Homo sapiens: one gene and its partners. The protein of the gene in region 6 interacts with the protein of the main gene of each other region in a pairwise test. Each region holds a gene or a part of one and is shown on either strand. Other genes may lie near its edges. The genes, in order: STOX1, CDX4, SH3RF2, PSMD9, TOX4, BANP and CRX.

Region 1 (4,246 bases), on a different chromosome or scaffold from region 6:
CCGCCCACCTCGGCCTCCCAAAGTGCTGGGATTACAGGCATGAGCCACCGCGCCTGGCCCCTTCCTCTTCTTTTAACATGTTGTATTTTCAAATGGGTTTTTTTCTCAAGGAGCCCTCCCGCTGGGCCTCAGTCTGGGTCCTCAGTCTGAATCGGCCTTCACTGCTTTGAGGCACAGGTCACATTCTACCGCCACGCATCACAAGCTCTCCCTTTGCCTCTGGGGCAGGACGGTGTCCGTCTTTTCAGAATGTCCACATCTAACCCAGGGCAGAATCCTACGATATCACCACAGCGCCACACCAATCAGGGTGGCACCTCTCCACTCTGCTTTCCTCAGCACTCAAGAGTATGGGATATCCCCGGGGTAGGACCAGATCCTACAACTTCAGAAAGTCATGGATGAGGCCGGCCGGGCGCCGTGGCTCACGCCTGTAATCCCAGAACTTTGGGAGGCGGAGGCGGGCGGATCACGAGGTCAGGAGATCGAGACCATCCTGGCTAACACCATGAAACCCCGTCTCTACTAAAAATACAAAAAATTAGCCGGGCGTGGTGGCGGGCACCTGTAGTCCCAGCTGCTCGGGAGGCTGAGGCAGGAGAATGACGTGAACCAGGTAAGCGGACCGTGCAGTGAGCCGAGATCGCGCCACTGCACTCCAGCCTGGGCGACAGAGTGAGACTCCGCCTCAAAAAAAAAAAAAAAGAAAGTCATGGATGAAAGGGTCCTTAGTTTATTATCCTGTGAAATAGTAGCTGGGACATTTCTGAGGCCCAGAGAAGGGAAATAACTTGAATGAACAGGTTGGGAGCAGGCCAGGCGATGTGGCGGGCACCTGTAGTCCCAACTCGGGAGGCTGAGATCAGAGGATCGCTTGAGCCCAGAACTCAGTGAATAGCCACTGCACTCCAGCCTGGGCAACACAGCGAGACCTCGACTCAAAAAACAAAAATAGAAACAAACAACTAGCTTAGGCGCAGAACTGAGACTCAAACCTAGGTTTCCTGCTCAACCCCCACACCTCCCAGGCCCCCGCTGACACCCTCAGGCTGTTCCTCGTGGTTGCTAACTTGGAACGGCCCCAAAGCCAGGTCGAAGGCGAGTCTCCCCGCCCTGGGGACTCCTGGCGCTGCAGTTCGCACGGCGGATGGACGCAGTCAGGTTCTCCAGGGAGCTGCGAGGAGCCCCAGGACTTGGAAAAACCCCAGAGCGCGCCCCTGGGGGAAGGGGAGCTCGGGACCTCGAGGCGGCTGGAAGTCGAGGGCATCGCCAGGGGGCCGAGTTGGGCCCGGGTGTGGAGAACGAAGCCGAACGCTGGGCTCTGGATTCTCCTCCAGAGCGCTCCGCCGGCCTAAGCACGGCCGCCCCACCCCCGGCCCGCCAGGCGCAGTCGGCCCCGCCCCCTGGAGCTCCGTTCCCCCGGCAGCCAGCGCCGCGGACCCGCGCGCAGTCGGCCGATCCTCCCGCCGAGCGAGCGGCGTCGTAGCCGCCGCGCTCGCCGAGGCCCTGCGTTGCGGGCTCCCGGCCGCCGGCGAAAGCATGGCCCGGCCCGTGCAGCTGGCGCCGGGCTCGCTGGCGCTAGTGCTGTGCCGGCTGGAGGCGCAGAAGGCGGCGGGGGCCGCGGAGGAGCCTGGTGGGCGCGCGGTGTTCCGCGCTTTCCGTCGCGCCAACGCGCGCTGCTTCTGGAACGCGCGGCTGGCGCGCGCCGCCTCGCGGCTGGCCTTCCAGGGCTGGCTGCGGCGGGGGGTGCTGCTGGTGCGCGCGCCCCCCGCCTGCCTGCAGGTGCTGCGCGATGCCTGGCGGCGCCGGGCCCTGCGGCCGCCGCGCGGCTTCCGCATCAGGGCGGTGGGTGAGTGCGGGACCCGGAGGGGAGGGGCGTCCCGGCCCGTGCAGCTGGCGCCGGGCTCGCTGGCGCTAGTGCTGTGCCGGCTGGAGGCGCAGAAGGCGGCGGGGGCCGCGGAGGAGCCTGGTGGGCGCGCGGTGTTCCGCGCTTTCCGTCGCGCCAACGCGCGCTGCTTCTGGAACGCGCGGCTGGCGCGCGCCGCCTCGCGGCTGGCCTTCCAGGGCTGGCTGCGGCGGGGGGTGCTGCTGGTGCGCGCGCCCCCCGCCTGCCTGCAGGTGCTGCGCGATGCCTGGCGGCGCCGGGCCCTGCGGCCGCCGCGCGGCTTCCGCATCAGGGCGGTGGGTGAGTGCGGGACCCGGAGGGGAGGGGCGTCCCGCGCCAGCTGTGAGCGCGGAGCTCCGCGCTGCAGGGGCGAGCGCGGCCCCGTCTTCTGCCACAGAGGCTAGGCGCTGCTCTGAGGGCCCGGGGGCTGCGGTTGGGCGGCCGGTCCGGGGGGCCAAGACGCCCCGGAGACGTTCCCTCCCGCTAGGACACTGCAGCTATAGTCCCCAAGGTGTGCCTGGCCGCTGCTAGTACTGGCTCCGGGCTGAGTCCGTTCCTCAACTCTTAAAGCCCGTGGAGTGCACAGAAGGAACTTTCTGCTTAGAAAAGTGATGCTCTGGATAGAGAGGCTTTGGGCTAGGGGCCACTGTCTAGGCTCCACCGGGGCGGTTAGGAAGGGTACCCCAGGGGAATGGCCAGAGTTTACCATATCTGGCAGCTTTATTATTATTATTTTTTGAACTACAGATCTGCAGCGAACGGCATTCTGGTTTTCATGTTCTGCAGTGTGGTGGTCTTGGGTCGGGACCTAGCAGCTTTGGGGTCGTTAACTTCTTGGGGAAAACAAGTAGCGTCTCATCCCTTTAGCTGAATAGACAGGATTCCACCTTCCCAGTCTTTTCAAACTTAACTGTTTGTTAGACAACAGCAGCTTTTTGCCTTTTTTCATAAAATAGCTTCTCATTTGAGAAACTAAACCACCGCACCCGTGAGTGGTCTCTGACTCTGGGCACTAAACCCAGGCAGGTGTGTCAGCTCCCTGTAACAACCTTGTTCTTGTCTGCATTTATGTGAGGCTGCAAGGGCCATTTGATGGTGTGTTGACAAGTCACCAGTTGTTCCGCGCTTAATTTTCATTCTTACCAAGGAACCCCTCTGTATTAGTCCATAAATCATCCTCTTCCATCCGAGGAGAAGGAGTCGCAAATAAAAAACATTTGTTTGGCCAGGCGCGGTGGCGCTCGCCTGTAATCCCAGCACTTTGAGAGGCCGAGGCAAGTGGATCACCTGAGTTCAGGAGTTAGAGACCAGCCTGGCTAACATGCTGAAACCCCTCAGGAGTTCAAGACCAGTCTGGCTAATACGGTGAAACCCCGCTTCTACTAAAAATACAAAAATTAGCCGGGGCGTGGTGGCAGGTTCCTGTAATCCCAGATACTTGGGAGGCTGAGGCAGGAGAATCGCTTGAATCCAGGAGGTGGTGGTTGCAGTGAGCCGACATCAGGCCATTGCACTCCAGCCTGGGTGACAAGAGCGAAACTCCGTCTCAAAAGGAAAAAGAAGAAGAAAGAAAAGAAAAAAAGCACTTATTTAATTTCCAGGGATTTGAAAACAGGGCAGCAAGAAGCAAGCACCTGACCCACCGATAACTGTATCATCCATTCAGAGATGGTATTACCACATCCCAGCAGCCAGTGCTTTAAACCTTCACTTCTCACCTCCATGCTGTCTGTTCCCTCTCCTCCCCACCCCGCCCCCGTTTTTCTTAAGCTCAAAAAAGAGCTCTTTGCAAAACCACATATACACATTTCCTCTCCTTTTACTTGCAGGAGTGAAGAAAATAGGTTTCTGGCTCTGAGAGCAGTGAGCCAAGTAGCCAAGCCAAAATCCTCACGAGCGAAGAGGTCTTTCAGACAGGCTCGATGAAAAACTCTTTTCAGTTCTGCATCCTCAGTTTTTCTGGTTTGAATTAGTGGTTACATTCTCAGGTCCCCCCTTTCAAAGGGTGAGCACAGAGTATATTGCAGAGAGGGAGTGGGATGCAGGGTGGGGGGTCTAGACCTGGGGGCGAAATAAGAGAGGGCTTGTGCTAAGTCACGGGCTGCCACTAATGCCCCAGTGAGCAGTGGTAAATGCTGGTGTCTGTGTTGGTGCTGTTTGCTGCCATCTGAAATATGTATCACACGTCACCTGTTGCTCCCATTCTCTTCTGCCCAGTGGGTAATGCTGCCTCATAGCACAACTCAGGATGCAGTGGACACTATGACCCCATCTGTGGGGTGTGCAACGCAGTGGACTTCCGCCGGCTCATCACCCTTGACTTGGGTCTCCTGGCAGGAATGATTTTGAGGTTTTCAAATT
Region 2 (4,452 bases), on a different chromosome or scaffold from region 6:
TCCATATTGAAGTTCATCTTTTCCTCTCAGTCATAAACCATATGTTATCCCACAGTACTACAGAGTGAAGTGGAAAATTTAGGAGGATCTGACTCATTCATTCATTAAACAAATATTTAAGACCCACTATGTACTAAGCATATAAATGGGTGCATTTTGGTCCTGAGTGGGTGGCCTAGTGAGGTGATCAGCTTAATTTTTTTCGTGGGGTTTATAACCTGATGTCCCTTGAAAGGGCTTCAATGGATCCATGAATCTCCTAAAATTATGTAACAAATTACTTGTGTTTGTGTGTGTGCTGCTGTGCCTTTGTGCATTTTTTCTAGGGAGATAACCAAAGTTTTTCATCATATTCTTAAATTGCTGCTAAATATGCACCTTAGACTATAAGAATACAGCAAAAGGGTTATTTTCATTTATAAGACATTAAAATGAAACGAAGTTTTAATTTAATGAAGCCTCATCTATAGAATAGGCTGCCAAAAATCGAAATGGTTCCAATATCATTCCATTTTAAACTTCTCATAGAAATTGGATAGAAAATCTTGTGACGGTGCCATTGTAAAGTCAGGTTTGAGGGTTTAGCTCAAAGATGCAAGAGACTAAGGAGCCCGTTTCGAAACCTTTCCTGGCATTAGAATTGCCCAAGAGAGAGACTCAGGCTAATAAAAGCAAATGTAAACGGAAGACCTTTAAGCAGATAAAACTGTCATATTTTTCCTCATAAATAGAAAATTCAAGGCTGGAGATAATTTCTTTTATCTCATCCATTTCCTCTCTTGTTCTCTATTGCAAACAGCACGCCAGTGACTTTCCTCTTAATGTGTTTCAAAACATAATCCTAGACTGCGAGCAACTACTTTTCTAGCTTTTGTGTCTTTTGCTGATTGTTAGGGTTTAGTGAGTGGATGTTAATTACAACCCCGAGATTAGATGTAATAAAAACTCTGGGAGTGCCCCACCCTAACCTCTTTTTCTATTCTACTTAGTCGACAGACTCACTCATATTTTTTTAAAATGCAGATTTACTTGCAAACGCTTTAAAGCCAAGTATTTCAACTCTACTTTTACCTTGGGATCGCTACTCTAGTGAGGTTCTAATACACAGAACTTCCTCTTCCTGGCTAAAAGTTCTCCTAATGGTAAAAATGGGTCACTTCCCACCCTCCTGTCTTTGCTTTTTGGAGGAAAGACAAAGTGCAGAACTGAGAACAGGAGCATAATCATTGCGGACAAATGCTATTGAAATGCCATTTCCTCCCCAGAGGGATGAAAATACTCAGAGTCGATTTTTACTAATTTTCTCTAATGACAGGGAGCGAGGGTTGGAATAATAAGAATGTAATAAAAGAACAACAGTTGAAAACAAACATTCCTCCCCCAGCCCCGGTTAAGATTAAAGTGGAACGGCCACTTCCCTCGCCCTGGCTCCCAGCAGTCGCCCACTGGCTTGCTGGTTAGGCTGTGATCGCGATCGCTTTGACTTCTCTCGCGCTGCCGCAGACCTGCATTCAGCCCCCACGCCTGAGAGACGCCTGCTTTGATAGTTATGAGGGCTTTAGCCATTTATTAGTGCTGGAGCTGATTCGTTTGCGTGTCGGGCGGGTGTGAGGGTTAGGTACCGTATTATGTACCAGGTCAGTGCTGTAGCCTTCTCGCCTGCCTCAACACTTGGGTTAGAAGAAAGGACGTTGTAAGATGGCAATGGATTTTAGGCCAATTTGCCTCTGCCAACTTGTAGGAAGGAAGCTGGAGCTTCCCTGAGAGGCCAGGGTGAAGAGGTTGCTTTGCCGTCGGGGACTTAGTGGCTAAACTGGAGGGTCCGTTGCCAGCCAAGCACTGTGAACCTAAATTGAGCATCACCAGCTTTGGGGGCGGGGAGGGGGGAGACAGCCCGCTCAGATGGGTAAGGGTTTGGAAATGGAACAGTCAAGCAGCAGTGCCTGAACAACGGGACACTACAGCTGCCCTCTCGCTTCATTCACCCGTTGAGCTTTCTCATGCATCTCTTTTCCCATGTGGGCAACTACAGGGTTGCATCCTGATCCTTGTGGCTTAACATACCCATTGTCCACTCACTCGCTTTCTTCATGGAGCAGCGAAAGGCGAAAATCACCTCTAGGGTAGGTTTAGTCCCAATCGCTGCACTCAGTGAGTGAGTTTTGAGCCCAGGCGAATGCGAGGGAGATGCCTAATAGGCCAGCCAGCCATATAGGGGTCGCCTCAGCTAAGCCCTCTTGGGAGAGGCCTGAGAAGTACGAGGGCAGGCCGACCAAGAGAAGTAGCGGAGAAGGGAAGGAAGGAAAAGTGTGTGGGCATTGGAATTGATTACTCACCCGTCACCTGCACCGTCTTGCGCATCCATGCATAGGGGCTGTGGCGGCTCCTGCTGGGGGAACTGGCCTTGGCGGCGCCTGCGTCCGTCGGGACAAGCGACCCGCCAGCCTGGCCTGGTAGGCTGCTGCCGCTAGTTCCACCGCCCACAGGGCCCAAGTTGCTGTAGTCGGTCGAGCAGAAAGCGGCGGGGCTAGAGGTCACGTCGTTCACCGGCACTGTGCCCATTGTACTAGACGGCCCAGGATACACGCTCCAGTCTTCTCGCGGGGGACTGTAGGGTGAGCCCCAGACTCCCAGAGACGGCCAGTGAGGATCCATGCTGGGCATATGAGGATACCCCATATAGTGCGAGAAAGCCGGTGCCGCAGCGAAATTGGAGGCTGGCATCGGACTCCCACCGCCCCCTGTGCCGCCTGTCCCAGCTGTGCCGTCGCCCCCAGGGCTCATGAGAGTGCCCGGGTACATGCCTGCTTCTTTCTCCAAAAGACAGCTTCCGTACATCGTGTCTTGGGTAGAAGGCGCTCCCTAAGCCATCCTGAAGTCCCTGTAAGGCCCCAACTCGACTTTGAGAAGCAGCAGAGAATAAACTTATCAGTACGTAGTTGTGCCGCAAGCTCTTTTGCACCCCTCAGGCTACTCCATCCCACGTTTCTTACGAGGGTATCCAGGTGACTAGCAGCCCTGTATAGATAGGCCACCAATGGCTGGGCTGACGTCAAGGGGCTTCAGGCTTTTACATAGCATTTGCATTCAAATGAAGGGCCATTTCACTTTCACAGGAACTTGTTCACCCACTCCCCAAGCTCCCAGGCCTTTCTGTCTCATCTTTCTTGATTCTGTCCATCTGGTCCCCATAGCGTCAGTATTGTGCTTTTGGGGACAGGAACTCCTCCAGGGATTTCTGACCAGCTCCCCTCAAAGTCAGATAGAGACCTGCAGAAACCGGGCAAAGTTCCGCTCTCTAGGATTCAGTCCTTACACCGCGGCCTCCTCCCTTTCACCGATCTTCCCGCGTCCAACCTGCATCTGCAGTCTCCTTCTGCCCAATTCCCTCGCAGGGGTTTACTGCATGGCACTGGCCCAGGATGCCAATGAAAAGAGCTTTCCCTTACTCTCCTTACTCCCTCCATCAAGAGGACGCCTTTGTTTCCAAGGGCAAAGATTCATTTCACAACTCTCTGTTGAGCGTCTACTGTGTGCCAGGTACTGTGTAGGCATGGGGATACAGCAGTGAATAAAAGACAAAAATTCTTGCTCTGCCTTCCTAAGATTACACTGTAGTGGATGGCAGGCTGAATTAATAGAACGTTGTTTACAAATATGCACAAATTAAAGAAAGATGAGTAACGTAGGTTATGCAAAATGGTAGGAGAGAGAGAGAACCATGTGGATAATAAACTTTCCTATTTTCATGTCAATCCACTACTCTCAGGTGTCTCCTTCTGCCAGGTATGGCTTCTGTCTGAAATCCAGTGCCTCAAGGGGCCAGAACTCTTGCAGTCTCAAATCCATGGCAGCTGCAGCAAACTAAAAAAGTTTTCTTTGTAAAACTCCAATTGTTGAAAAAGACATAGACTTGCTAGTAGATGCCAATGAAATCAGTATCTTGCCTCAAGAAACCAGGTCTCCTCTTGTGTTCCTCCTCTCCACCCAGCACCCCCAAGACCTACCACAGCCTTTACTCCAGGCTGCTTCCTACTCAGGAAATGTGCTCCTACACAAAATCCAACATAACCTGGCACCCCCACCCCCTTTTAGCTAATCCATCTATGGCTTTGGGAAAGTCACTTAACCTCTCTGAGTTTCACGGGTTTTCCCTTTTAAAAATAGAGAACCTAATGGTATCTACCTTACAAGCAGGATTTCCTCAGATAATGCAAGCAAACTGCTTAACTTAGTGCTTGGCACACAGTATGGGACCACTGTATTCACTCAGCAAATATTTATTGAGTACTTAGTGCTGTTCTATGTATGGAGACATCAGTGGTGAGCAGATAAAGCCTCCGGCTTTATTAAGCATATATCATAGTGGGGAGAAACACTGATAAGTAATTAAATTTTATGGTATATCAGACAGTAATCAACTCTATGGAGAAAAAAAAAAGCAGGGAAGGA
Region 3 (4,024 bases), on a different chromosome or scaffold from region 6:
ACCCCTGGCTACCACTGACCTATTTCTCATCACTACAGTTTTGTCTTTTTGAGAACTCCCTTTCCTTTTGCAGTACTCTTTGGTTCCTTTTTTTTTTTTAATGGAGATCCCTGCATGTTTCTGTGTGTGTGCAAAGAACTCTAGTGCCAGCTGACTTTCTCTTCCATTGTTACTCTTTTGTTATTTACTGTTGCTAACATTTATTAGCTTCTGTTATATGCCAGGCACTTGTGCTAAGCTCTTTATATATATTATATATATGTATATCATTTTAATCTCATTTTAATCATTTTAATCTCACAATAGCTGTATGATATAAGTATGCCTTTATTATTCCTATTATATAAGTCTAGAAACTGAGGATCAGAGAGGTTAAGTGACTTGCCTAAGGCCACACAGCTAACAAACAATTGAATCCTGGCACAAATACAGCCCACTTCACCATAAATCCTTAAATGCTACAGTAAGCAATAAAAGAGAGGAGACTAACTAGAAAAGAGGTACACTGAGAGAGATTGAAGGCAGTGCCAGTGTGGGGCCATGTGGTTATTAAAAATGTTTGTAAATGTGTGTGAAGCTGGAGAACCATCTGGGTCTCTTGACTTCTCAACCTTAGCCCCTACCTTTATGTCTTCCTCCACCTACTACATATGGTCCTTGCTGTCCCAGATGGCACCTATCTGCTGTTTTCAGGGGCCTGGGATGATTTTAATCCCCTTGCAAATTTAGCAAAAACCCCACTGTCTGTATCACAGCTCTATTACAGGACACAACCTCTGAGACTCAGGAAAGGGGCTAGTCCACCTTCTGGTTTCTACCCAGCCTCATTCCCTGATATGTTTTCTGACCTCATTTTTTTTCCCCATCAGTTGCTTGCAACACCAGCTGAAAAGTTTCTAGGACAAAGCCACCTGGTCTGTGTGCTGGAGGTGGCAGGTGTGTTCTTGCTGATAAGGGGCAAGTAAGACAGAAACGTGTGTGACTGGCATGATGCTAGCAAGGTAGGGAGAAAGTCCATCCCTACAGAACCCATGGCAATATTTGTGTTGGGGAATAGAGTGAGAAGCAGGAAAAAACGAAAGATAAAAATGTTAATAAAGAATTGATGATGCGGAGGAAGTAGACCAGGTTCTTGCCCTGTGTATGGTTTTCCTTTGAAGGTGCTGTTTGGGGAAAGTGAAGTTAGTTAGGGAGTTTTCTCCTAGAATGGATCATAGTGCCTTAAGGGTTCTGGAAGTGAGCTGCGAAGCCAGCACATGCTGGGAAGAATCACACATCTGAATCATGGCCACGGATCATGTGGAGGCAAACAAAACAATGCAAAAATCAGGGTACCAAGGACCGTCTCTGGATGGCACTTGCTTAATAAGGGGCTGAAAGGGTGTGTGTAATTTAGAGTAGAAAGTATTGAGTCACTTCAACAACAACCACAGCTAACATTTACTGAGCACTTAATATGAGCCAGTCTCTGTGCTAAGAGCTAAGTGACATGAATCATCTCACTTATTTCTCACAACAACCCTCTGAGGTAGGTACTACCATTATCTCCAATTTACAGATGGGGAATTGGAGGACCTGAGGTTTAAGTGACTCACCCAAAGTGCAGAACTGTTGAGGGGCAGAGTCAGGATTTGAATTTGGGTATTTCTCAAACCCAAGTCCACAGATTCATAACTTCTCTGCTTTACCACCTATCCTAAATCAGAAATATTACTAAAGTGTAGCAGAATGAGGAAGAAGAGAGATCAGCTATTCAGGAACCTACAATCCTTTTGAAGGCTTGCCAAGTTCCTTTGCTTTAACTGTATTAGGGAAGGAATAAGAAGAACCAGTGGAATTTGCACCACCAGGACCTCTTCCTGGAGGAGTCTGGTGATCTTGCCTGTTGGTTTGAAATAAATGCACACTGCAGAAACCTACAGCTGTTTCTCAAGTTTTCTTTTTACACAATCATCTAGGGAGGGTTTTAGACATGTAGGCACAATAGGCAATTTTTTTCTCTCTATGGGCTGGCACCATGAGGTGTGACTATTGGTTCCACCCTAGAACACTGGTTGGCACAGGAAGCATCAGGCCTCTTTGAGCCAACAAAAAGAGCTTGATGAGCTTGTTTTTTAGATGAGTCTAGGTGAGCAGAACAGACTTTGGGCTTCAAAAGCTCATGGACAGAAAGTTAAACGAACTTTTTCAGGGTGCCAGGTTATCGGCAAGTCCTTTGAAAGAGGTGTTTTACAAAATGGTGCCCTGTGACAACAGGTTATTTATGCTCTCTGAGTGGAGTACTTTATACTTAGTATTATCCTGGCCTGAGCTCATCATAGAATCAAGTTCAATAATAATACCTATTACACTCTCCTGCAAGGGCTGTAACTCCTTCTACATTTTGTAGCATGCCTCATGTGTGGCAGGGCACAATAAACAGTCAATAATAATGTTCACTGTGATAATGATCTTCCAAATGTCTTTCATCTAAGGCTCTCAAAGTGTTTTGGAGATACTAATTAGTTAAACCTCACAGTAGCTGTCTGTTTTTATACATGACATCTTCCCATTTTACAGAATTTTAAATTGAGACCCAGCAAACATAAGTGGCTTGCCCAAAGTCATACAGCATGTCTAAATGAATCTTAATGATGATGCTTTGCATTTACATAGCAGATGTTTTCTAAGGCAGTAAAAGTATGTTGCAAAGATAATTTTCACACTATCCTGGAGGAAGGTGGGTAGCAAGTAGCTTTTGACTAGATTGGCTGAACTGTGGCAGAGAGGGCAAGGAACTCAGGAGGATTTGACCGAGGATGTAAGTCCATTCCTCTGACTCTCTAAACAGACTGTGGCATCCAGACAACCCTCAGTTCTCTTAACTGTGGGATGCATGGTTGCTTTCATGGTTGCAAAAAAGATAGGTAATATTTTTGGGAGCAGAGGCACGTTGCAGAACAGCAGCCATATTGACATCCAGAAATAGGTTTGTTCATATCCCCACTGAGGAAGGCAAAAGGAATGAGAGGAGTCACTTCAAGAAAGGATAGTTAGGACATAAAGGAATTGGGAAGTGGGGGTGCCAGCTCTGCTCTCTTGCAGAGCATCTTTCTAGCCCAGGTCCTGCCTGAACACAGGAGCCCTTGAGTTTCAGCCTCACCACAGGACTTGGTCCAGAGCAGCTTGGAGGGTGGGCACAGACGATAGTCTGATGTTATAAGTCCCTGCAAAAGAATTCCAGAGAGACCCAGTATCTTAATGGCTGTCTCTTATGTACAACCAGCTCTCACCTCAATTCCCTGTGCCAGAAGGGCCCTGAGAATCCTCTATAGTTCAAAAACTTGGTAGCTGTGGATCCATTCATCGCTACCTGTCCTTTGCAACACAGTCACATTGAGAAAGATGTAAACCACAACAAAAATATTCCAAGCTGATAAGGGAACTGCCTCCTCCCAGTGTGACACCGTTTCCTGAGTAAGTGATGATACTCCGCTGAAAGGCAGGTCAGACTTCTGCAAGGTGGGGAAGGGAAGAGGTTGCTAGGTCTTAGGAATTCAAGGGGGATTTGCTGACCCAGAGATAGAGCTCTTTTCTCTACAAACAAGGCATGTTTGAGAACAATTTGCTTCCCCACCCCTACTTCGCCATTTCCAGACCTGTGGATTCTGATTGATGACTAGACCAGGGGTAGTGGAGGGACTTAAAAAGAGTTCCAAACCCTTTTCTGGAATGTGTCACTTACAAGCACAATGGCAATAAAAAGCCTACAGTGAAGAAATCAAGGGTGTACAGTGAAAAAATGTCCTGCTTCTTCCCACCCTCATTGTTGAATGTTTACACATGCGCCATGGGTGGTTTAAAGATGCAGTGAACCCAGGAAGTGGTAGCTCTTAGAAGGAAAATTTCGGAAAGTTGTTCCAAATGCGTATCACAAGCCACTCCTCACTCCTGAGTAAGGAAGCAGTCCTGCAAGACCCTCCCACACGTTATTCCTCTTCAGAGCAGGGAGATGTGGGACACTGCTGCCAGCATTTAGACTCTA
Region 4 (4,024 bases), on a different chromosome or scaffold from region 6:
TAGATGGGGTAGTGAATGATAGGGAGCTTCTGTGTAACTTACAGACTTGTGACCATTAAAGAAGACTGGTAGGACCAGGGTTTAGGACCCCATTCCACCTGGCAGGAACTATGTGTCCTGACCAGGGTTTAGGACCCCATTCCACCTGGCAGGAACTATGTGTCCTGACCAGGGTTTAGGACCCCATTCCACCTGGCAGGAACTATGTGTCCTGACATAAGTTACTTCAGGTCTGCAAGGCTTTTCCTCGAGGATGAAATGAGTAAAGATTAGGACCTATCCCAGAAGTGGCTGTGGAATTAAATTTAACTACATCTCCACAAAAAAACTGTACAAGAATGTTCGCAGCAACATGCTTCGTAATAGCCAAAAAGTGGTAACAATTCAAATGTCCATTAACTGACAAATGGATAAATAAAATATGATATATCCAGGCAGTGGAATATTATTTGGCCATAAAAAGGAATGAAGGGCCAGGCACAGTGGCTCACGCCTGTAATCCCAGCACTTTGGGAGGCTGAGGCGGGCGGATCACGAGGTCAGGAGATCGAGACCACCCTGGCTAACAAAGTGAAACCCTGTCTCTACTAAAAATACAAAAAATAAAAATTAGCTGGACGTGATGGCAGGCGCCTGTAGTCCCAGCTACTCGGGAGGATGAGGCAGGAGAATGGCGTGAACCTGGGAGGCGGAGCTTGCAGTGAGCCGAGATCGTGCCACTGCACTCCAGCCTGGGCGACAGAGCGAGACTCCGTCTCAAAAAAAAAAAAAAAAAAAAAAAAAAAGAAGGAATGAAGGGCCAGGCATGACAGCTCATGCCTGTAATTCTAGCACTTTGGGAGGCCGAGGAAGAAGGATCGCTTGAGGCCAGGAGTTCAAGACCAGCCTGGGCAACATAGTGAGAACCCATCTCTAAAAAAAAAAGGAAATAAAAAATTAACCAGGCATGGTTACATGTGCCTACAGTCCTAGCTGCTTGGGAGGCTGAGACAGGAGGATCACTTGACTCTGCGAGTTTGAGGTTGCAGTGAGCTATGATGGCACCATGGCACTGAAGTCTGGGTGAGAGAGTGAGACCCTGTCTGTAAACAAATGAAGCACTGATCCATGCTCAATACAGATGACTTGAAAATTTGCTAAGTGAAAGAAGCCAGTCATAAAAGGTCACATATTATATGATTCAACTTATAGGAAATATCCAGAATAGACAAATACATAGAGACAGAAAGTAGATAACTGGGTGCGGGGAGCTGGGGGATTGGGAAGTGATGGCAAATCACTACAGAGTTTCTTTACAAGACAATGACAATGTTCTGAAATTGATTATGGCTGGGCATGGTGGCTCATGCCTATAATCCCAGCATTTTGGGAGGCCAAGGTGGTAGAATCACTTGAGCCCAGGAGATGGAGACCAACCTACGCAACAGAGCGAAACCCCATCTCCTTTTTTTTTTTTTTTTTTTTTTAGACAGAGTCTCACTCTGTCGCCCAGGCTCTGGAGTGTAGTGGCACGATCTCCGCTCACTGCAACCTCCACCTCCTGGGTTCAGGCGATTCTCCTGCCTCAGCCTCCCGAGTAGCTGGGATTACAGGCACATGTCACCACACCCGGCTAATGTTTGTATTTTTAGTAGAGATGGGGTTTCGCCATGTTGGCCAGGCTGGTCTTGAACTCCTGACATAAGGTGATCGCCCACCTAAGCCTCCCAAAGTGCTGGGATTACAGGCGTGAGCCACTGCACCTGGCTGCAAATTTTTTAAATAGAAAGAAAATTGATTGTGGTAATGCATGGCTCTGTGAATACACCAAAAGACACTAAACTGTATACGGACTTTAAATGGGTAAATTTTTTTTTTTTTTTTGAGACGGAGTCTCACTCTGTTGCCCAGGCTGGAGTGCAGTGGCATGATTTTCGTATTTTTAGTAGAGACGGGGTTTCGCCATGTTGGCCAGGTTGGTCTCGAACTCCTGACCTCAAGTGATCCACTGGCCTCGGCCTCCCAACATGCTGGGATTACAGGCGTGAGCCAATGCTCCCGGTCAAAAAAAAATTTTTTTTAAGACAAGGTCTCACTCTGTCACCCAGGCTGGAGTGCAGTGGCACAGTCACAGCTCACTGCAACTTCGACTTCCTGAGCCCAAGTGATCCTCCCATCTCAGCTTTCCAAGTCGCCTCAGCCTTCTCAAGTGCTGGGATTACACGCATGAGCCACTGTGCCCAGCCTAATGTTTTTTTTAAGACACCACATAAGATGCATAACTCATTTGGCAAGATGCCATTCTCATTTTCATCATTCAGTGCCCAGCTAAAATGAGCCCCAAGAAGAGATCCTCTCCCTCTCTTGGGACATTTATCATCTTCTGTCACTGGGAAGAGGTCACTCCCCCACCAATGTAGTGGGCAGCCGGGGCTGACCCCTCTCTAAAACTCTGCCCCCAGCACAGGGCTGGATACACGACAGGCCTCAGTCAGTGTTTGTTAAATGAGTAACTGAACTCAGCACCGCAGCACGGAGAGAACTAGTCTGTCTTTCCACATCCCCGAAGGCTACCTGACCCACCGTGTCCCCTGGGCATGGACTTGAGTGGCCAACCCCTGGATTACCGCGATGCTGGCTGGGGAGCCGGGGCTGATGCTGTTCACTTTGGCGAAGGCCCGTGGAGGGCCCTGGCTCTCACTCTGACCCAGTTTGCGGCTCATGGCCTCTTTGTGGGCCTCAGCCATGTCCCGGGCCTGCTTCTCCTTGTCGCGAGCGTGCAGCTGGTGCAGGGCCTCCTCCACCTGCTTCATCACTGCCTTGTGATCATTCTGCAGGCCTGGGATGAGAACCACACATCAGGGGCCAAGGAAGACAGTGGAGGACACAAGACTCCTACATTTATTCACTGAAGAGTTAACAAGTGCTTATTACATGCCAGATGTGGAGCTAGAGGTGAGAAGGAGTCTCTGACCAAGACAGAGGACATTCCCTCATGGAGCATTCAGTCCTGCAAGGAGCAGCTCCAGAATAAGTAATTACAATAACATCTGATGACTGCAGGGAGGCCTGGCCAGCAGCAAAGTCTGCCCTCGCTAGTCTAGGATATGAGGGAAGGCTTCCTGAAGGCAGTGCTGTCTCGGGTGAGCCCTGAGAGGTGAGCAGAAGGAAGGTAACAACCAGCTGAATCCACAGCCATGAACTCAAAGGCATATGTATGAGGGGCCAGCGCTGTGATCATGTGAATGAATGACTCAGGCTGGGTGTAATCAAGATTTCACTTTTCTCTGAAATCCTCTAGAAGGAAAAATGCTGCATAAGCCGGGCACAGAGGCTCACGCCTGTAATCCCAGCACTGTGGGAGGCCGAGGCAGGCAGATCACGAGGTCAAGAGATCGCGACCACCTTGCCAACATGGTGAAACCCCGTCTCTACTAAAAAATACAAAAATTAGGCCGAGCGTGGTGGCTCAGGCCTGTAATCCCAGAACTTTGGGAAGTCAAGGTGGCCGGATCACGAGGTCAGGAGATGGAGACCATCCTGGCTAACACGGTGAAACCCCGTCTCTACTAAAAATACAAAAATTAGCCGGGCATGATGGCAGGCGCCTGTAGTCCCAGCTACTCGGGAGGCTGAGGCAGGAGATTGGCGTGAACCAGGGAGGCGGAGATTGCAGTGAGCCGAGATCGCGCCACTGCACTCTAGCCTGGGCAACAGAGCAAGACTCCGTCTCAAAAACAAAACAAAACAAAACAAAAACAAAAATTAGCTGGGCGTGGTGGCGGGTGCCTGTAATCCCAGCTACTTGGGAGGCTGAAGCAGGAGAATTACTTGAACCCAGGAGGTGGAGGTTGCAGTGAGCCGAGATCGCACCACTGCCCTCCAGCCTGGCGACAAAGCAAGAATTCGTCTCAAAAAAAAAAAAAAAAAGTGCTGCATAAGCCTAGTAATCCTGGAGACATTCAGTCCAGGAGAGGGAGTCCACAGGGAGGTGGCCAAAGGGCACCCCTGCTACAGGGCTCTTGCCAATTGGCTGGGTTTGGGA
Region 5 (4,024 bases), on a different chromosome or scaffold from region 6:
ACTAAAAATACAACATTAGCTGGGTGTGGCGGCACATGCCGGTAATCCCAGCTACTTGGGAGGCTGAGGCAGGAGAATCACTTGAACCCAGGAGGTGGAAGTTGCAGTAAGCTGAGATTGCACCACTGCACTGCAGCCTGGGTAACAGGAGCGAAATTCCATCTCAAAAACAAACAAACAAGTAATTCTAAATCCAAACTTGGTAGTGGATTTGAGAGTTAGCCACAGCATGCAGCTTATCAAGTAATAGCCTAATTTTATAAATGGGGGAAAAAATGAGACTTAGAAAAGTTAAATATCTAAAAATTGAACAGAAGGACACTACATGAGGAATTATAGGAGACATTATTAGTGGAAAGTACATGGGAAGAGTTAAAGAACCTGGATTGTGTCTCAACTTTACCACTTAAATGTTATATGACCTTAACTGGGCAGTGGGCTCCAGTTTCCACCTTAAAAGCGGGAAATGGTAGCTATTTTTGAGAGTTATTGTAAAGATGCAGTACTTCTGTAACAATTATTATTATTTTTTGAGATGGAGTTTCACTCTTGTTGCCCAGGCTGGAGTGCAATGGCATGATCTCGGCTCACCGCAACCTCTGCCTCCCGGGTTCAAGCAATTCTCCTGCCTCAGCCGCCTGAGTAGCTGGGATTTGAGGCATGCCACCACACCCGGCTAATTTTTTTGTATTTTTAGTAGAGTCGGGGTTTCAATGTCAGCCAGGATGGTGTTGATCTCCTGACTTCGTAATCCGCCTGCCTCGGCTTCCCAAAGTGCTGGGATTAACAGGCGTGAGCCACCGCGCCCGGCCTATAACAATTATTATTTATTTATTTGAGCCGGGGTCTTGCTCTGTCACCCAGGCTGGAGTGCAGTGACACAAACATGGCTCACTGCAGCCTTTATATCCTGAACTCAAGCAATCCTCCCGCCTCAGCCTCCACAGCTGGGACCAAAGGCACATGCCACCACACCCAGCTAATTTTCTGTGAGACGGGGGTCTCCCTATGTTGCCCAGGATGGTCTCGAACTCATGGGCTCAAGCAATCCTCCTGCCCTGGCCTCCCAAAGTGCTGGGATTAAAAGCATGAGCCACCACACTCAGCCTATTAATAATTTTTAAATAGGCCGGGCGCAGTGGCTCATGCCTGTAATCCCAGCACTTTGGGAGGCCGAGGCGGGTGGATCACGAGGTCAGGAGATCGAGACCATCCTGGCTGACATGGTGAAACGCCGTCTCTACTAAAAATACAAAAACAAAATTAGCCCAGTGTGGTGGAAGCGCCTGCAGTCCCAGCTACTCGGGAGGCTGAAGCAGGAGAATGGCGTGAACCCAGGAGGCGGAGCTTGCAGTGAGCTGAGATCACGGCACTGCACTCCAGCCTGGGTGACAGAGCGAGACTCTGTCTCAAAAAAAAAAAATTTAAATAGGTTTTCTGGAGTGAGTGTATGGCTGCAACTTCGAAGACAAGGGATGATATTTAAGTGTCATTAACAAACAGCTGATATTAGATAAGGACATGTAAGAAAAAAGAAAACCTCAATTTTTATCTCTTTAAAAACTTCTGGAACATTCACTACTAGTTCCTCAATATTTGCTCACCTGTTTTTGCTCCTCTCCAAGACTATCCCACATGGAGGCCACAATTTTTGAAACCTCACCAAAAGTGGCATTAGGATTCTGTCCCTTGATGGCAGCCTGTGTATCACGAAAGAATAAAGCATATGCTGAAACTGGTTTCTGAGGTTCATTAGGATCTTTCTTTTTTCTCTTCTTTGGGGCCTTCTGCTTTTTCCCTGCTTCCACCACGACTGTCTTCTGGCTGGGAAGTTGCTGTAGGAGAGAAAAAAGAGAGAATTACACAATGGACAATGACAAGTATTATGTCTGGAAACTAGCCACATGTATGGAATTTTCAGAAATGCTAAAAATCATAGAAATAGCATTAAAAGACATTAGTCAAATATGGAGAACCAATAAGAATAGGGATTGAGAGGAGAATTATAAACTGGAAATTGGGAGGTGGAACCCCATACCCAGAAAACAGCAGAGGAGATGGCACGGCAAGGGTAAAGAATACTGATTAGGCTCTGTATCCCAAAAATTTTATCCCAGACTATCACAGCAGAATTGATTTTGACAGGGAATGCCTCACCCTCCGGAAATCCTCAACACCATCCTCGTGAAGTGAACTAGTAGGTGAAGGGGTGGTTGAAAGACGATCTTCAGGTGACTGGGCAGGTGGCAGGATGGTGCCACCCCCTAGGCTCAAACCCAGCTGGGAACTCAGTTCTGACTGATCAATGGTGGTCAACTGGCTATGCCCCATCAAGCCAGATGTCATGTCTGTCATTGGTACATCAATTGTAACAGGTGGGTTGGCACTATACTGAGTTCCTATAGAGTGGTCCAAGTCCTGAGAGAAGCAGAAGGACTAATTAAACACTAAATATAAAAAAAACCACTTTTCCCCCCTAAATTTAAGACAGCTTATAAATTCCCTGCCTACCCAAATTGTATCATTTAAAATACAAAACATAAAATAGTCTTCAAAAATGAAAATAAAAAAATAAGCTTTTTAAAAAAGTACAGAAATTAATGAATTTACTTCTTTGCACTCAAAAGAAGAACTAAAAATAATCAGAGAAGTCGCACTGTTGGACAAGTCAAAGAGCTATCAACTTATTCAGTAATATATAGGTAGTGACAACACATTGAGTAAAGAAAAACTTCCTATCTGTACTCTCCCAAAATAATAGCTTTTAAAATTGTAATACATAGGCAATCAGCATAAATAAGGCCAATATTAAAGTCTGGCATCAAATATAGAGTATGAAGATGTGCTTACTGGTTCGATGTGCTGGAAGCCCAATATACTGATTTATATTACATACTAATCCACAATACTATATTTGGCTCAGACTTTTTTTTTTTTTTTAAGCTCTGTTCTGCTGGCTGCTCAACGTGATTCAGGCCATTTTTGAATAAATCCCTCCGTGTGCCAGCTATCACATTCAAATTTGAATCCTAGGATGTGAAGGCCATAATAAAAGCAGAAAACACTTTTTCCCAAAAACCACAATAAATAATTTTCAAACCAGACATTGTACAATTTTAAATTATTTTTCAAGTAAAATCTACCTACATGGTAAATTTCATTTATTCAGGTGAAATTAAGTCTTTGTTGGTGAGCCTTTAGCCACAAGAAGAGAAACAAGTAATACCCAAGTGTAGCAGGGAATAGAGTAACTTTGTCTCCCCTAATGCCATGCCCATTAGCTGGGGTAAGCCTGACAATGTCTTGCCCCTTACCATGGTCAAGCCCCCACTCAGGAGCCCCCCGCCCTGCTCCATCAAGCCATGGGTCATGCCCACAGGCATGTCCAATGTCTGGACCCCATACTGGGCTGAAAAACTGCCATCCTGTGAAGAGGAAGGGTCTGCCAGGTCATCAAAGTGGCCAACCACATCTGAGACAGCCAATGAGGGATCAGAATCCAAGGAGATAGGTGGGATTTCAAATTCCTCATCACCCAAGCTTGGTGTATGGAATGTCTGTAGGGGAAAAAAGGGGGAAAAGAATTAGTGAAAAGAGGAGAAATGGCATACTACTAAGTGAAGAACATAATGGGGTACTAGAGATTCTCAGGATGCATTTTTTCTGCTTAGGATCCTATTTTATAATCAATTTCTTAGAACCTATTATTTTTACCAATCTCTCTTCTGATACCCTTGGTCATTTGGTACATTCAAGGCTGCTAACATCAGTCACAATTTTCAATTCTTTTATCTCTTTTCTACCATTACCGTCTCTTTTGTCTTAAATTATGCCTATGGTTCTAATGAAAAATTCTTTCAGTACCATTACTTAGGACATAGCCTTTATAACCTGTTTACTATGATTCTTGAAATCTCTCTCTAAAGATTCTAATAGAGCAGTTATTTCACAATTATTACATCTAAACTGTTAGGTCACAGAAATTCGCTGTCAGCCAGCCAATTATACTTTGTTGTTTTAGGTT
Region 6 (4,024 bases):
TTCTAGGGACTCAGAGTTCAAGAACATGAGGGAACGTGGCACAAACGACCAAGGACCACCACCTAACATGACCTACACCACAAAGAGGAGAGCCAGAAATTGTAAGACAACAGGCCAATTATTGCAAACTGTGTTTGCCCACTGACAGTCACAACTGTTGGCTGGGAAACAGGGCACCCAGCCTTCTAAAAACACTTAGGGTGTGAACTTTCTCAATCTCAGGGACGCATTTCGGCAGAAAACGCAGACTGGCAGCGGCAGCACTCTGCTCAGGGACCCACCGCCAGCTCCCACCGACACAAGAGCTGAGCTCACTTGAGGACACGTAGCGGCAGGGGTTGTCCGCATCCTGGCCACCAGCGCCCACAGAGCTTGCAGCATGCCATGATGACAGCAGGGACCGTGGCCCAATTCCCCCCGCGTCATCTGGTGAAAGGTGAAGGCGTTCTGCCATATTTACGGGAAGCGCATTCACACCGGCAAGGAAATGCCAAGCGCGCACCCAGTTCTCCCTCCCGGCTCCATCCAAACGCGTTTCTACTTTCAGAAAGATTAAGCTTTGCTTCCAGATATTTGATGACTTTTCATCTCAAGGGAAAAGGAAAATCACTACAGGCCACAACGGCCTTCTCTCAGACACAGAAGGTAACTGGTCACTAGCGAAAGGTTTGTCAGCGCAGGGCCCTGCGGCAGGCCTCCGTGAGCTTGCCTCAAAACCGCCCCAGGTCTCCTGACAGGACTCCACACCAGCCCACCCGGTCCACACAGGATCCGGTCTCAACCACGACAGAATGTGGACACAGACGAGCAGAGGGGAGGTGACTGCAGCCAATACACACCCCCGATCCATTCTGCCCAGCCTTCCTCAGGTGTTTCACTGCAGCCTCCTCTCAGCCTTTCACCTCCTCAGCCGCCTCTGCTCCATGTGTCCTTCCACAGCTCCCACGCTGTAAGCTGGCGACCTGTGGGTTCCGAATGGAGCACCGCGCCATCCTCCACCACCACTGACCCCTTCCCCAGAGAGACACCTCCCATGGGAGCAGCGAGTCGTGGAGTCTGCTCCACCGTGAACGCTGACGATCCAGAATGTTTAATCAAATTGGACGGTTCTTGACGAAGTGTAGACGCGAAGGATTGCAGAGTGGTTCTTTCCAACAGGAATCAAGTTCATGTGACTTCACAGTATCTCGGCACACCATCTGCTGGCAGCTTAGGAGTTAACACTTCCTGCACATTTTAACCAAAGACACTCACAGGATTCTGCCACGGAGGCCCCGGGGTGCTCCTCTCTCTGAGACTTACGGCACCCCTGAGAGGGGGCTTCTGGGACAGCACTTCATCCTCTGCACGGGGGTCAGGATGGAGGGTGGCGGAGAGTGTTTCTCTACTTCCTGAGGATGGAGACATCGTCTCTTCCAAAGGGGGGGCCAGAGTGGAGTCTTGTACAACAGACAAAGGGAGTCCCAGGCGAGCCCACCGGGACGTGCAGAGGCGGAAACCTGAGCTTGTCTACGACTACAACCAAAGCAGGCTGAGCTTGCCTATGATTACAACCAAAGCAGGCGGCTCTGCAGGCTGGGAAGGCCACGTACCAATCACTCGCCCCATTCTTCTCCTGCAGGGGCTGAAGGGCCCCAGGTGCAGCTGAGAACAAAACAAGTGTAGCTTTTTCAGAGCAAATTGCAAGTGTGTGATTCCACCCAATACTGTTTTCAACTTCCTGAAACTCCTCCCCACGGCCCCCAGGCCCCCAAAGTTCCGGATGGTTCAGAGCACTTCTGCTGACCAAGTCAGATGATGTCATGCTTTCACCACCGTCACCCGTGTGAAGAGAAAATACAGATGTTTATCTACCTCAGGCACAGGGAGGACCTTCTAAAGCTTTCATCTCATTCTCATTCAAACCCTCAAATTGACTTTCCCCAAGAAGTCTTTCCTTCAAAATGAGGAAATGTTTAGTTTCTCTAGATTGCAGTGGCTAAACTGGTGCTGTGAGTTACAGTCATTTTCAAGTCAGCCTTGCGACTCCATGTCATGTCAATCACTTAATCGTGTAACTGGAGTTTTTGGGATTTGTACAGTATCACTGCAGACGAGGAACCCAAAGGCTAACAATCCTGACGGGGGAGCTGCAAGACCACTGAGGCCCACTGCCCAGCACCTGTGCCTGGAGCCCCCAAACCCCTACTCCCTCACCTCCCTCAAGGTTGTGGGAAGGCCTTCCGTGTGGACCAGGGTGCACACACATCACCTGGCCACCTGCCTGCAGGAAATTCTGAGCCTCCCTGTCTTTCAAGACCTGGACACTTGAGACGCACTGGCCAGGACTGTGGTGAGCATCCCTCAGTTTGGGTGCAGCATTTTCTCATGATGAGACTGCATTTCTGGCAACACTGCCAGAGAAGTGATGTGTCTCACTGGGTCCTTGGTGTCAACGTCTTATGACTGATGGTGTTACCCCGATCACTTGCTTCACACAGTATCTGCTGGGTTTTTCCACCGAGAGGCTACAGTTTTATTTTTCCCTTTGTGACGTGTATCTTGGGGGAGATACTTTGTGACTATGTAAATATCACAGACAGAAGGACATTAAGGAGACAGGGCGGCCACACGCACCAGTGTGGGGTCCCGGAGGGGATCCCGAAACAGCAAGAGGACACTGGTGCAAAACCGAAGTTCGAATAAGGTCTGTCATTTACGCAATAATGCTGTGAACTTTCTGGCGTTTATATGGATGCCTGGTTACATAAGACGTCAACATCAGGGGAAGCAGATGAAGACAACAGGGAAGCTCAGTGAAATATTTTTTGCATCTTTTCTGTAAAGTCAAAAACTATCTGAAAATTAAAAGCTGACCAAGCTGCAGTCTGATTCTGCACGAGAACCTGGGTAGGGCCTGAAAGTGTGCGTTTCTCACAAATACCCAAGTGATGCTGATGGACACAGCTGGCCCCTGGACGCTCGGCTGGCAAGGCTCTGGCAGACAGAGCCCACCGCACTACACACAACCTCCCAGTGACAGTCAGCCACCATGCAGAAAGATCATGCTCCCAGTACGCTCACCACTGCTTCACTGCAGGCCCTCCTGGACCCCAGCAGGGCAGACGGCCCGCTTGGCACACTGACCCAGCGAGGAGCCAAAGTCAGGGTCTTTGCTACCACACGGGTCTGCCGGGCCTTGCCCAGGTACGCTGGCAGCCCTCCAAGGCCACAGGGCCAGAGCCACCAGCCCACGCTGCAATTCAGAGGCGGCTGTGGAACGGCGGCTTGGCACCTCACCCCGTTGACTGTGGGCAATTACCAAGGCCACAAGGAAGCAGGAAGGTGGAGTGAATAGAACAGGCTTGCAAATTCCTGCTCAAGGGGAGTGACTGGCCGTACGGGTGACCTCCTCTCACTCCATTAACATCATCTTTAATAGGGTGTTATCAACCCACAAGAAAGAACACACTCCTGACAGATGCAGAGGACCCGATCAGGGCAGAGGGAAAGCACCGGGGGCACAGGCGTGGGGCTCCAAGCCTCGCAGAGCCCTGCGGGCAGGCCAAACCCGCACCTGCCAAGTCGGTCCCGCACAGGAGAGCTAACTCCCCCACGGCCAGCAAAGGGGCCTTCCTAAAGAAGCGGAACAGCCCAGAGAAAATATCTGCAAGTTGGTGCTCCAGGTCCCACGGTGACAGGCTCCCAATCACCCGAGGGGAAACTGGACTCTTTCAAAAGCACCCCACAGACCCGGGGCTCTCCGCCAGCTTCCTCCTGCCTCAGACAACAGTAAACATCAGTATGGAGGACTTGCCATAAAGAGGAAGAAGCCAACACTTTTTTTAAGTGACATTAGTGGAAACAAGAAATCAGAACAAAGGAGAGCTGGGAAGAATCCTTATTAGTTTCCTTAGAGTCATGGAGATGAGGCACTTGTGTAACAATAAGCTACTATGAAAAAGAAACAAGACAAATACATGCTTGGACATTAAAAATTTGATTGTGAACACATATTAAAGCCCTCTCCCAGAATGAGAATAAA
Region 7 (2,968 bases), on a different chromosome or scaffold from region 6:
AGGATCGCTTGAACCCAAGAGGCAGAGGCTGGAGGGATTCAAGATCACGCTGCTGCACTTGAGCCTGGGTGAGAGAGGGAGACCCTGTCTCAAAAAAAAAAAGAAAGAAAGAAAGAAAGTCAGAAAAAAGTAAGCAGCAAAGAAAAAGAGACAAGAGGGAAGGAAAGAAAGAAAAAGGTGAAAATCCATCCAAATGAAATGAGGAGCTGGGAGTCTGAAAGGCAAGAGGAAGAATGGAAAGAGAGAGAGGAGAAGAGATGACAGAGCAAGGGTGAGATTGAGAAACTGAAAAGCATCCGGGGGAAGAGATGGAAAGCAAAGGGGTGGAAGAGCTGAAGCTGCAGAAGGCTGGATGCTGAGAGGGAAGGCGGGCCAGAGGCTGCGCGTGGCTCTAAATGCTGGCGTTAAGCTTCACATCCTGCCACTGAGGCAGGGAGCATTCTCGTCACCCCCCTGTTTTTTCGGGAGGGGCATTGGAAGGTTACAGATGGGTGGGGCTGGGGCTGGCCCTGGGGACCCCTGTTCCTCCTCCTCCTTCTTTTTTTTTTTTTTTTATTTTTTGTTTTTGGAGACAGGGTCTCTTGTTGCATCACCCAGGCTGGAGTGCAGTGGTGCAATCATAGCTCCCTGCAGCCTCAAACTCCTGGGCTCAACCGATCCTCTCATCTCAGCCTCCCGAGTAGCTGGGACCACAGGCACACATCACCACACCCGGTTGATTTTTTTAATTTTTTGTAGAGACAGAGATCTCGCTATGTTGCCTGGGCTGGTCTCAAACTCCTGGCCTTAATCAATCTTCCCTCCTCAGCTTCTCAGAGCACTGGATTACATGCGTGAGCCACTGCACCCAGCCCCTGATCCTTCATAAATTGGCTTTAGAGAGATGTCAAGGAAAGGAGGGTGATGAGACAGGAAACACATGGAGGGACCCAGGCCCCACAGACAGAAGGAACAGAGTAGTTCCTGTTTCTACCTGCCCCTCCTGGAGAAAACACGGAAACTAAAGAATCACCCAGACTTTAAATGAGATCCAACATTTTAATTGGTTTCACTCTGTGGGTGGACAGAGAAGGGGGACCCAGAGGCCAGTGTGTGGGGAAGAGGAGGACAGATAAGGTGACACCTTCTCAGGGAGGCTCCTGGCTTCTTCCTTCTGTCCCCACCTGCCTTGTCACTCTTCCTGGCTTTAGGACGTAGAACGTTTGAAATCCCCTGTGCACAGCTGGAAGAACCAACACTCAGGAGCCCAGCCCAGGAAAAGCAATCTGTAACCTCCTAGCTGGATTTGGCTCCCTGCCCTCTCCGGCTCCTGGTGGAGTCTCAGAAGACCCCAGGATCAGGCTCTCTCGAAGTCTTACCCCATCGGCCTGTGATGGGGGCCCCTTGGCCTTCACTACTTCTCACTCCTTCCCAGAACCTTGCATGCATCCTTCAGTCCCTCCCCAACTCCCATCAAGTTTCTATGACTTGTTTGCACAAGACACAGCCTCCCCGGTGAATAAGGAGAAGATTCTCTTCCACGCCTGAGTCCCGGCCTCCAGTGCAGAGCTTCCGTGTCTCCGAAGAATGAAACTTATAGTGGATTCTGGTCCCAACGTTTGCACAGACCCAGGGCACAATATTGTCTCATCCCTGCCCCTCCCGTGTGAATTTTGTCTAGCTCCCCCAGCCTCCCCAGTGACATATGTTGTCTTCCTCTGTTTATATTTTCATCCCACACTGGACTCTTGAGCCACTCCTGGGTTATTTTTGTTGTTGTTATTATTGAGACGGAGTTTCGCTCTTGTGACCCAGGCTAGAGCACAGTGGCACAATCTCTGCTCTCTTCAACCTCCGCCTCCCGGGTTCCAGCAATTCTCCTGCCTCAGCCTCCCGAGTAGCTGGGATTACAGGCGCGTGCCACCATGCCCGGCTAATTTTTGTATTATTAGTAGAGACAGGGTTTCACCATGTTGGCCAGGCTGGTCTCGAACTCCTGACCTCAGGTGATCCACCCGCCTCGGCCTCCCAAAGTGCTGGGATTACAGGCGTGAGCCACCGCACCCGGCCCACTCCTGGGCTTAATGTCCCAGAACCCAGCATGACTCAGGCCTATGAGAGATGAACACGTTTTATGTTGAATAAAAACCTCTTTGTGGGCTCTAGAGATCAGGGTGTACCCCTCAGGGGGTCTAGGCTGTGTGCACCTCTTCTGGTCTAGTGCTGGAAACGTCATCTGATACCTCCCGGCCTCTCTTCACATCTCGCCTTTCTCCTGACCCTGGCTGCTGCTGACGGTGTGTACCAACTCGTAAGCATATATTGTGCCCTATCTCTTCCCAACTCTTAGTTCAGTGACCTCCGGTTGCTAGCTTGAAGTCAGCCGTGGTGGGAGTATTTACACCACGGAAACTGACAAACACTCCACAACCAACCTTTTCCTCTTCCTTGGAGAGCCCATTGTTAGACCTCTGCCAGCACACCACTGTCTTCCTGCCCTACTTTTTTTTTTACACCTTGCCTTGTGAACTCCACCAATGAAGGGCTCTTGGAACCCGCCTCCCCACCCAAAAATGAAAGGAGAACTCGGACTGAGAAGGCAGGGACCCAGCACCCAACTTCTGAGCATCAAATGACCTCAATCCGTCTTCAGGTTCTCACAAGTGCTTGCCAGTGTCACCATAAGTAAGATTCTATTTCAAGAAATAATGGTGCCACCCCAGGAAAATGTCCTCAAGCCAAGCTCTATTTTCCAATCCCACCATCAAAACTGAAAACCAAAAAAAAAAAAAAAAAAATCTAAAAAAGGGAATGTATGTTTGAAATGTAGGGCTGCCTCCTCCAAATCTATTTCCCCCTCTTCCTATCTCTTGTTTATTTACAGATGGGAGTCTGTCTAGCTGCTGCTTCTCTGTGAAATAGCCACAACTATAGGTGGTACGTCCCAAGCAGCTACCCCAGTTCCACCAGTGTCTCACCTTTAGAAAAT

Evidence for each region.
Region 1: the proteins of BANP (region 6) and STOX1 interact in binary tests that used the Homo sapiens proteins (3 or more experiments, as listed by UniProt).
Region 2: the proteins of BANP (region 6) and CDX4 interact in binary tests that used the Homo sapiens proteins (3 or more experiments, as listed by UniProt).
Region 3: the proteins of BANP (region 6) and SH3RF2 interact in binary tests that used the Homo sapiens proteins (3 or more experiments, as listed by UniProt).
Region 4: the proteins of BANP (region 6) and PSMD9 interact in binary tests that used the Homo sapiens proteins (3 or more experiments, as listed by UniProt).
Region 5: the proteins of BANP (region 6) and TOX4 interact in binary tests that used the Homo sapiens proteins (3 or more experiments, as listed by UniProt).
Region 7: the proteins of BANP (region 6) and CRX interact in binary tests that used the Homo sapiens proteins (3 or more experiments, as listed by UniProt).

The regions. Positions count from the first base shown.
Region 1 is NC_000010.11:68,826,085-68,830,330, forward strand, and holds the start of STOX1 (storkhead-box protein 1), read left to right. Parts: upstream 1-1,446; 5' UTR 1,447-1,539; coding exon 1,540-1,849; intron 1,850-1,892; exon of another isoform or gene 1,893-2,185; intron 2,186-4,246.
Region 2 is NC_000023.11:73,445,640-73,450,091, reverse strand, and holds the start of CDX4 (homeobox protein CDX-4), read right to left. Parts: upstream 3,040-4,452; 5' UTR 2,839-3,039; coding exon 2,337-2,838; intron 1-2,336.
Region 3 is NC_000005.10:145,939,306-145,943,329, reverse strand, and holds part of SH3RF2 (E3 ubiquitin-protein ligase SH3RF2), read right to left. Parts: intron 1-4,024. UniProt on the Homo sapiens protein: Has E3 ubiquitin-protein ligase activity. Acts as an anti-apoptotic regulator of the JNK pathway by ubiquitinating and promoting the degradation of SH3RF1, a scaffold protein that is required for pro-apoptotic JNK activation.
Region 4 is NC_000012.12:121,898,428-121,902,451, reverse strand, and holds part of PSMD9 (26S proteasome non-ATPase regulatory subunit 9), read right to left. Parts: intron 2,819-4,024; coding exon 2,607-2,818; intron 1-2,606. UniProt on the Homo sapiens protein: Acts as a chaperone during the assembly of the 26S proteasome, specifically of the base subcomplex of the PA700/19S regulatory complex (RC).
Region 5 is NC_000014.9:21,486,984-21,491,007, reverse strand, and holds part of TOX4 (TOX high mobility group box family member 4), read right to left. Parts: intron 3,558-4,024; coding exon 3,315-3,557; intron 2,419-3,314; coding exon 2,158-2,418; intron 1,836-2,157; coding exon 1,605-1,835; intron 1-1,604. UniProt on the Homo sapiens protein: Transcription factor that modulates cell fate reprogramming from the somatic state to the pluripotent and neuronal fate. In liver, controls the expression of hormone-regulated gluconeogenic genes such as G6PC1 and PCK1.
Region 6 is NC_000016.10:87,954,192-87,958,215, reverse strand, and holds part of BANP (protein BANP), read right to left. Parts: intron 1-4,024. UniProt on the Homo sapiens protein: Controls V(D)J recombination during T-cell development by repressing T-cell receptor (TCR) beta enhancer function. Binds to scaffold/matrix attachment region beta (S/MARbeta), an ATC-rich DNA sequence located upstream of the TCR beta enhancer.
Region 7 is NC_000019.10:47,841,381-47,844,348, reverse strand, and holds the end of CRX (cone-rod homeobox protein), read right to left. Parts: 3' UTR 1,025-2,968; downstream 1-1,024. UniProt on the Homo sapiens protein: Transcription factor that binds and transactivates the sequence 5'-TAATC[CA]-3' which is found upstream of several photoreceptor-specific genes, including the opsin genes.